2 separate regions of the Homo sapiens genome follow, and region 2 is linked to region 1. The links come from fine-mapping of genetic effects on gene expression. Tissue or cell type: unexposed skin. Region 1 holds a variant in brackets; the other region holds the start of a gene. All regions are shown on one strand. Distances are from middle to middle.

Evidence for each region. PIP is the estimated chance that this variant, and not a neighbour inherited with it, causes the effect. A credible set is the group of variants that fine-mapping cannot tell apart.
Region 2: it holds the start of SAXO5, and the variant in region 1 is the best candidate, but not a certain one, in a credible set for the expression of SAXO5 in unexposed skin (GTEx, PIP 0.85).

What each region holds. Positions count from the first base shown.
Region 1 is chr19:7,527,083-7,531,312 of GRCh38, forward strand. MCOLN1 (mucolipin TRP cation channel 1) reads left to right here. Exons shown (of 14, transcript NM_020533.3): 5 at 438-546; 6 at 782-878; 7 at 1,076-1,175; 8 at 1,515-1,621; 9 at 1,739-1,888; 10 at 2,019-2,120; 11 at 2,508-2,630; 12 at 3,204-3,419. Among named protein-coding and RNA genes, the nearest start is that of PNPLA6, 6.5 kb to the right of the region's middle. The variant A/C (reference allele first, on the strand shown) is at 1,603.
Region 2 is chr19:7,495,306-7,499,305 of GRCh38, forward strand. SAXO5 (stabilizer of axonemal microtubules 5) reads left to right here and starts at 2,243. Exons shown (of 9, transcript NM_198534.3): 1 at 2,243-2,377.

The sequences.
Region 1 (4,230 bases):
TGGGCCACGTAGGAAGACCTTGTCTCTACGCACAAACAAATTAGCTGGGCGTGGTGGCGTGCCCCTGTGGTCCCAGCTACTCAGGAGGCTGAGGCAGGAGGATCGCTTGAGTCCGGGAGGTTGAGGCTGCAGTAAGCTATGACCACGCTGCTGCACTCCACCCTGGGTGACAGAGTGAGACCCTGTCTCAAAAAAAAAAAAAAAAAAAAAAAACAAGTATGCTTAGTGTGAGTGTGACTCTTGCCACGTAGAAAGCACCAGATGTTATATTTTAATATGGCTCATTCAGTAAAACATCCGCAGGCCCAGAGAGTGCCAGGCCTGTAGGAATGACCCAACCCTGGGGAAGCACAGGGAAGAAGGCCACTGGGGACTCTGGGGAGACCAGCCTGGCCTCCCCGGCCCCCTGAGGCCCTTCCCTGACTCCCTGTCCTTAGACTGCATCCAGGTGGATCCCCCCGAGCGGCCCCCTCCGCCCCCCAGCGACGATCTCACCCTCTTGGAAAGCAGCTCCAGTTACAAGAACCTCACGCTCAAATTCCACAAGTACTGCCTGCTCACTCGAGGGGGGCCCAGGGTGGGGGAGGCAGCACACTAGGCACTCTCACCCCAGCAACTACTTCCCTAAGGTGGGGACAGGGCCCCCCCGCCCGCGCTGGTGCCTGCTGGGTGAGCACTTCCCCTGCCAGCTGCAGAGTCAGCACGTGGCAGGGGACGCTGGCACTTGGGGCCGGAAGGGACCCGAAGACGCCCCTGACCCTCACCCGAGCCTCCTGCCTAGGCTGGTCAATGTCACCATCCACTTCCGGCTGAAGACCATTAACCTCCAGAGCCTCATCAATAATGAGATCCCGGACTGCTATACCTTCAGCGTCCTGGTGAGGCCCCCCGGGAACCCACAGGGCTCCTGAGTTCCAGGGCAGGGACCTGGTCAGGGAGTGTCTTGGGAGCACTGGCCAAGGGCAAGCGTGCGGGTGATGAGGGAGGGAGCCCGGGGTCTGTCAGGCCACCTGTCATGTGGACCTTGGGGCTTGGGGCTGCCAAGGTTTACTCTGCCCCCAACTGGCCCCCACAGATCACGTTTGACAACAAAGCACACAGTGGGCGGATCCCCATCAGCCTGGAGACCCAGGCCCACATCCAGGAGTGTAAGCACCCCAGTGTCTTCCAGCACGGTGAGCCCCTGAGCCCCAGACCAGCACTGACCAGGGGCCCTGGCCTGTCCTGGGATTCCCCAAGCCCCAGATCAGCGCTGCCTGGGGGCCGTGACCTCCCCAGGAATCCGCTGAGCCTCAGATCAGCACAGACCAGGGACCCCGTCCTGTGCTGAGATCCCCCAAGCCCCAGACCAGCACTGACCGGGGTTCTTGACTCACCCCAAGCAAGCCCTGAGCCCACTGACCAACCAAAACCAGCCGTGCAGCCCCCTAGGTCTCCAGCCTGGCCTGGCACCAATGCTAGCCTCCCAAGGCTCCATGCCATCCTTGGCCCTACCCGCTCTGCCCTCCCCGCAGGAGACAACAGCTTCCGGCTCCTGTTTGACGTGGTGGTCATCCTCACCTGCTCCCTGTCCTTCCTCCTCTGCGCCCGCTCACTCCTTCG[A/C]GGCTTCCTGCTGCAGAACGTGAGGCTTCTGCGTCATGTGTGCTGGTGTCCTCCCCGCCTGGCCCTGGGGCGATAAAAGCCAGGGCTTTGAGGGTCCTGTGCCTGGTCAGGCCCTCACCCCGCCTGCCTTCTGCAGGAGTTTGTGGGGTTCATGTGGCGGCAGCGGGGACGGGTCATCAGCCTGTGGGAGCGGCTGGAATTTGTCAATGGCTGGTACATCCTGCTCGTCACCAGCGATGTGCTCACCATCTCGGGCACCATCATGAAGATCGGCATCGAGGCCAAGGTGCGTCCTGCCAACACCCTGGGCCCCAGGTCCCATCCCTGCTGTCAGTGCCTATCCGGGGCCATATCCTCCCCCAGGCCCCCCAAAGGAAGGGCTGGGCCAGATAGGTTGACGCAGCTCCCACCCGCAGAACTTGGCGAGCTACGACGTCTGCAGCATCCTCCTGGGCACCTCGACGCTGCTGGTGTGGGTGGGCGTGATCCGCTACCTGACCTTCTTCCACAACTACAATGTGAGTTTTGCACATGCAGCTGGGCCTTCCACATGGTTACTCCACACCCTCCAAATAAATCCCTACACACGCAGCCCTCACCAGCCCCGGCCAATGGCCCCTTGCAAGCCTCCTCCTCCTACCTGCCCACACCAGATATATCTGTCACTGCACCTGCGCGGGGCCCCGGGAGCCTGCTCCTTTGTGCCCACCCAGCTGAGTCTAGCCGTGCGTTGCCCTCGGACCCCCTCAGACGTGGCCACGCCCCCTCTAGGCACCCACTGGCTCCCATGACCACACCGGCTGTGCCCTCGGCAAGGCCCCGCCCCTCCCACCCCCATCTGGGTGCCCACAGCTGACCTGAGTTGTGGCCACACCCTCAACGAGGCTCCCTCTGCCCCAACCCAGATCCTCATCGCCACACTGCGGGTGGCCCTGCCCAGCGTCATGCGCTTCTGCTGCTGCGTGGCTGTCATCTACCTGGGCTACTGCTTCTGTGGCTGGATCGTGCTGGGGCCCTATCATGTGAAGGTACATCTAACCCCTGATGTCCCTGACATTGACCCTGTGACCTTGTCATTGACACTGTGACCCCCAGATGACCCCTTGGTGACTGCTGGGAGTCTGTCCACTGTCCCCTGTGGTCCTTGGTGACCCTGACACTGACCCTGTGCCATTATTGTTGTCACAGTTGTTGATGACCCTATTTCGACCTGAATTACTCCCCTCCTGCTCTATCTACCCAGACCCTAGGTCGGCCCTGTGGCCCTGTCATTGACCCGTGGTCCCGGCCATTCACATGGGACCCCAGCCTGGGACCTGGCCATTCACATAGTGACCCCAGCCTGGGACCCGGCCATTCACGTGGGACCCCAGCCTGGGTCCCGGCCATTCACGTGGGACCCCAGCCTGGGACCCGGCCATTCACAGGGGCCCTAGCCTGGAACCCGACCATTCACATGGTGACCGCAGCCCGGGACCCGGCCATTCATGTGGGGCCCCAGCCACCAGCTCCTAGCCATTTGCATGGGACCCCAGCCTGACCCCAGCCCCCGGTTCCTGGCCATGCCTTGGCTCCCTCTGACCCCGCCGCCCCTCTGGCAGTTCCGCTCACTCTCCATGGTGTCTGAGTGCCTGTTCTCGCTCATCAATGGGGACGACATGTTTGTGACGTTCGCCGCCATGCAGGCGCAGCAGGGCCGCAGCAGCCTGGTGTGGCTCTTCTCCCAGCTCTACCTTTACTCCTTCATCAGCCTCTTCATCTACATGGTGCTCAGCCTCTTCATCGCGCTCATCACCGGCGCCTACGACACCATCAAGGTCAGCCGCATGCACCCAGCCCTGAGCTCGGGCTCTGGGTGCCCTGGAGTCTGCCATGAGGGGGTCTTGGGGACACCGCAGGGTGAACAGAGAAGACCCAGGAGAGAATATGGGAGACTCTATGAAACCAAAAAGAGGGTGGTTCAGAACTGGGGGGCGCAGGGGGATGTCAAGGTGGGCTTGGGCCAGGAGGGGGCCTGAGTCAGTCTTTGCCAACAGGGCAACCGAGTCATAGAGTTTATTTATTTATTTGTTTATTTGAGACGGAGTCTTGCTCTGTCACCCAGGGTGGAGTGCAGTGGTGCGATCTTGACTCACTGCAACCTCCACCTCCCGGGTTCAAGCAATTCTGTCTCAGCCTCCTGAGTAGCTGGGACTACAGGCACACGCCACCACGTCCAGCTAATTTTTGTATTTTTAGTAGAGATGGCATTTCACCGCATTGGTCAGGCTGGTCTCAAACTCCTGGCCTCAGGAGATCTACTGCCTTGGCCTCCCAAAGTGTTGGGATTACAGGCGTGAGCCACCACGCCCGGCCTATTTTATTTTATTATTAAAGTATTGTTCTTTATTTTATTAGAGACAAGGGTCTCACTGTGTTACCCAGGCTGGTTTCAAACTCCTGAGGTCAAGTGATCCTCCCACTTTGGCCTCCCAAAGTGCTGGGATTACAGGCGTAAGCCACCACACCCAGCCTATTATTATTATTTTTTTTTTGAAATGGAATCTTACCCTGTGGCCCAGGCTGGAGTGCAATGGCATGATCTCGGCTCACTGCAACCTCCACCTTCTGAGTTGAAGCGATCCTTGT
Region 2 (4,000 bases), 32 kb before region 1:
CCTTCCTTCCTTCTGACTTCTTCATACAGATGATTAAGATGCTGAATAATAGTTACTTCTCTCCCTAGCTGCTCTTTTGTTTTGTGTTGTTTCTGAGACAGAGTCTCACTCTGTCACCCAGGCTGGAGTGCAGTGGCGGAATCATAGCTCACTGCACCCTCACTGCAACCTCAATGTCCTGGGTTCAAGAAATCTTCCCACCTTAGCCTCCCAAGTAGCTGGGACTATAGGCACGCGCCACCGCACCTGGCTTTTTAATTTTTTATAGAGATAGGGTCTCACTGTGTTGCCCAGGCTGGTCTCAAACACCTGGGCTCAAGCAGTCCTCCCGCTTCAGCCTCTCAAAGTGATGGGATTACAGGCCTGAGGCACTGCACTCAGCCGCCCTTGCTTCTTTTTTTTTTTTTGAGACAGAGTTTTGCTCTGTGGCCCAAGCTGGAGTGCAGTGGCACGATCTCAGTTCACTGCAACCTCCACCACCTGGGTTCAAGCGATTCTCCTGCCTCAGCCTCCTGAGTAGCTGGGATTACAGGTGCCCGCCACCATGCCCAGCTAGTTTTTTTTTTCTTTGAGACAGAGTTTTGCTCTTGTCTCCCAGGCTGGAGTGCAATGGCGTGATCTCAGCTCACTGCAACCTCCGCCTCCTGGGTTCACGCAATTCTCCTGCCTCAGGCTCCTGAGTAGCTGGGAATACAGGTGCCCGCCACCACACCCGGCTATTTTTTATATTTTTAGTAGAGACAGGGTTTCACCATGTTGGCCAGGCTGGCCTCGAACTCCTGACCAAAGGAGATCCGCCTGCCTCAGCCTCCTGAGTAGCGGGGATTACAGGCGTGAGCCACCACGCCCGGCTAATTTTTGTATTTTCAGTAGAGACAGGGTTTCACCGTGTTCGCCAGGCTGGTCTCAAACTCCTGACCTCAAGTGATCCACCCACCTTGGCCTCCCAAAGTGCTGGGATTACAGGCGTGAGCCACCACACCAAGCCACAACAGCCCTTTTCTGGACGCTACTTTGGGAGGCTGAGATTACAAATGTGAGCCACCATGCCTCACCTGTGTGTTGTTTTTATTTGTTTTTATCTGCTCATCTCAAAAAAGAAAGTAAAATTTCCAACCAATAAATTCATCCCACCCAAATCCCCTACTTCCTTAAGCTGTGCCCCCAAAACACCGAGCAGAATTGCAAATCCCATAATAAGTGCTTTCTGGCCGGGCGTGGTGGCTCACGCCTATAATCCCAGCACTTCGGGAGACTGAAGCGAGCGGATCACCCGAGGTCGGCAATTCGAAACCAGCCTGACCAACATGGAAAAACCCCATCTCTACTAAAAATACAAAATTAGCTGGGTGTGGTGGCACATGCCTATAATCCCAGCTACTCGGGAGCCTGAGGCAGGAGAATCACTTGAAGCCGGAGGTTGCGATGAGCTGAGATCGTGCCACTGCACCCCAGCCTGGGCAACAAGAGCGAAACTCCATCTCAAATAAATAAATAAATAAATAAATAGCGAAAAAAAGTTCTTTCTAACACCTCCCTACTGAGACCGCCATAGTGCCCTATGACATGTATGAGCTCTCTCTCCCTCTCTCTTTCTTTCTCTCTCTCTCTCTGATGAATAATAAGCTTGAATGTGTTCAATCACAGGTACATTCCTGGTGGTCTTTGACTGGGGAAGGAGGGGTGACCGGCCCCTTTAAAGGGAGATCTGTGAGCCCTAGAATAATATCAAGAGGTGCAGTGATTCAGGGAAGTGGGTCCATTCTGTGTGGGGTGTGTAGAAGGTAGAGGGACAGAAAAACTTTAGAGGATGATAATAATAATGGACACCAGCAGCCTATTTAATCAAATCCTCAATACTGACACTGCTTTCTGAACTGGCTACCATCATTAGTCCCCTTTTGCAGATGACAAAACCTAAGTCCTAGCCAGGCATGGTGGCACACACCTGTGGACCCACCCACTTGGGAGGCTGAGGCGAGAGGATCGCTTGAGCCCAGGACTTCAAGTCCAGCCTGGGCAACATAGCGAGAGCTTACCTCAAAAACAAAACCAACCGAACAAAACCCCAGAGGCTCCAAAAAGTCAATTACTTGCCTGGGTTCCTGGAGCTCTAAGGAGGCAGTATTCGCACCAAGCCTGCCTGCTAATTTTCCTCCCGGCTGCCCCTAGAGGTGCTGAGTGGTCATTGTGACAGTATCATTACACAAAGGAAGCTCTTGGGGTCACAATGCGCAGGGCTGGACCACCCTTGGATGCAGCCTGGGAAGGAACATGAGGATCCTCTGAGAGACCAGGGACAGAGGGAGACCCAAAGATCTGGTCTGTAGCTAAGTGAATTTTCTAAAACTCATTGATTCACACGCCATCCCTTGAGGTAGGTGCACTGTCCTCGTCCCTGATGTACAGAGGTGAAAACTGAGGCTCATGGGAGCTTAATGACTTATTCCAAGATTACCTGGCTAGTAGTCTCAGTTGTTGGATTCTCTGATGACCCATTTTGGAGGTCATATTCAACTCTCAACTATTGCAGGGGGCAAATGATTCAAAAAGCAGCAAACTCAGCCAGGCGCGGTGGCTCATGCCTGTAATCCCAGCATTTTGGGAGGCCGAGGAGGGTGGATCACCTGAGGCTAGGAGTTCGAGACCAGGCTGGCCAACATGGCGAAACCCCGTCTCTACTAAAAATACAAAAATTGGCCGGGCGTGGTGGCGGACACCTACAGTCCCAGCTACTCTGGAGGCTGAGGTGGGAGAATCGCTTGAATCCAGGAGGAAGAGGTTGCAGTGAGCTGAGAAAAAAAAAAAAGCAACAAACTTACACACTGAAAAACTGTGGTTTCATTAAAACACACACACACACATACACACACACACACACACACACACACACACCCTTCATCCATGTTTTCTTTCTATTTTTGTGATGGGGTTTCGCTCTGTCACCCAGGCTGGAGTGCGGTAGCGTGGTCTCGGATCACTGCAACCTCTGCCACCCAGGTTCAAGCGGTTCTCCCGCCTCAGCCTTCTGAGTAGCTGGGATGACAGGTGCATACTACCATGCCCAGCTAATTTTTGTATTTTTTTCTTTTTTTTTTTTTTTTTTTTGAGACAGAGTTTCGCTCTTGTTGCCCAGGCTGGAGTGCAATGGCGCAATCTTGGCTCACCACGACTTCTGCCTCCTGGGTTCAAGCTATTCTCCTGCCTCAGCCTCTGGAGTAGCTGGGATTACAGGCATGCGCCACCACGCCTGACTAATTTTGTATTTTTAGTAGAGATGGGGTTTCTCCATGTTGGTCAGGCTGGTCTTGAACTCCGACCTCAGGAGATCTGCCCACCTCGGCCTCCCAAAGTGCTGGGATTATAGGCCTGAGCCACTGCACCCGTCTGATCCATGTTTTCTAAATAGGTAGAGGTAAGCAGGTTTTGTGGGTTGAAGTGATCTGGGAGGTCTTCCTGCAAGAGGTGAGCCTGAGAACTTGGAATGCTGGTCTCCAAGGGAGACAGAGAGGAGAGCATGGGAGACACTTGTGATCTAAGCAAAGGCAAGAAAGTCCCAGGTGACTGAGCAGAGGCGGAGGGTCAGGGGAGGCTTGGAGTCTGAAGCTGAAGGTCAGAGGAGAGAGCTAACTCTCAGAAGGTGTGAAGACAGGAAGAGATTGAGAATAGGCAGGACCTAGGACAACTGCAGAGCAGGGGAAAACCAGTAAGAAAGTGCGTGGCAGGCCGGGCACAGTGGCTCACACCTGTCATCCCAGCACTTTGGGAGGCCAAGGCAGACAGATCACTTGAGGTCAGGAGTTCGAGACCAGCCTGACCAATGTGGTGAAACCCCGTCTCTACCAAAAATACAAAACTTAGACGGGCATGGTGGCAGGTACCTGTTATCCCAGCTACTTGGGAGGCTGAGGCAGGAGAGTCAGTTGAATCCAGGAGGTGGAGGTTGCAGTGAGCTGAGATCGTGCCACTGTACTCCAGCCTGGGGGACAGAGTGAGACTC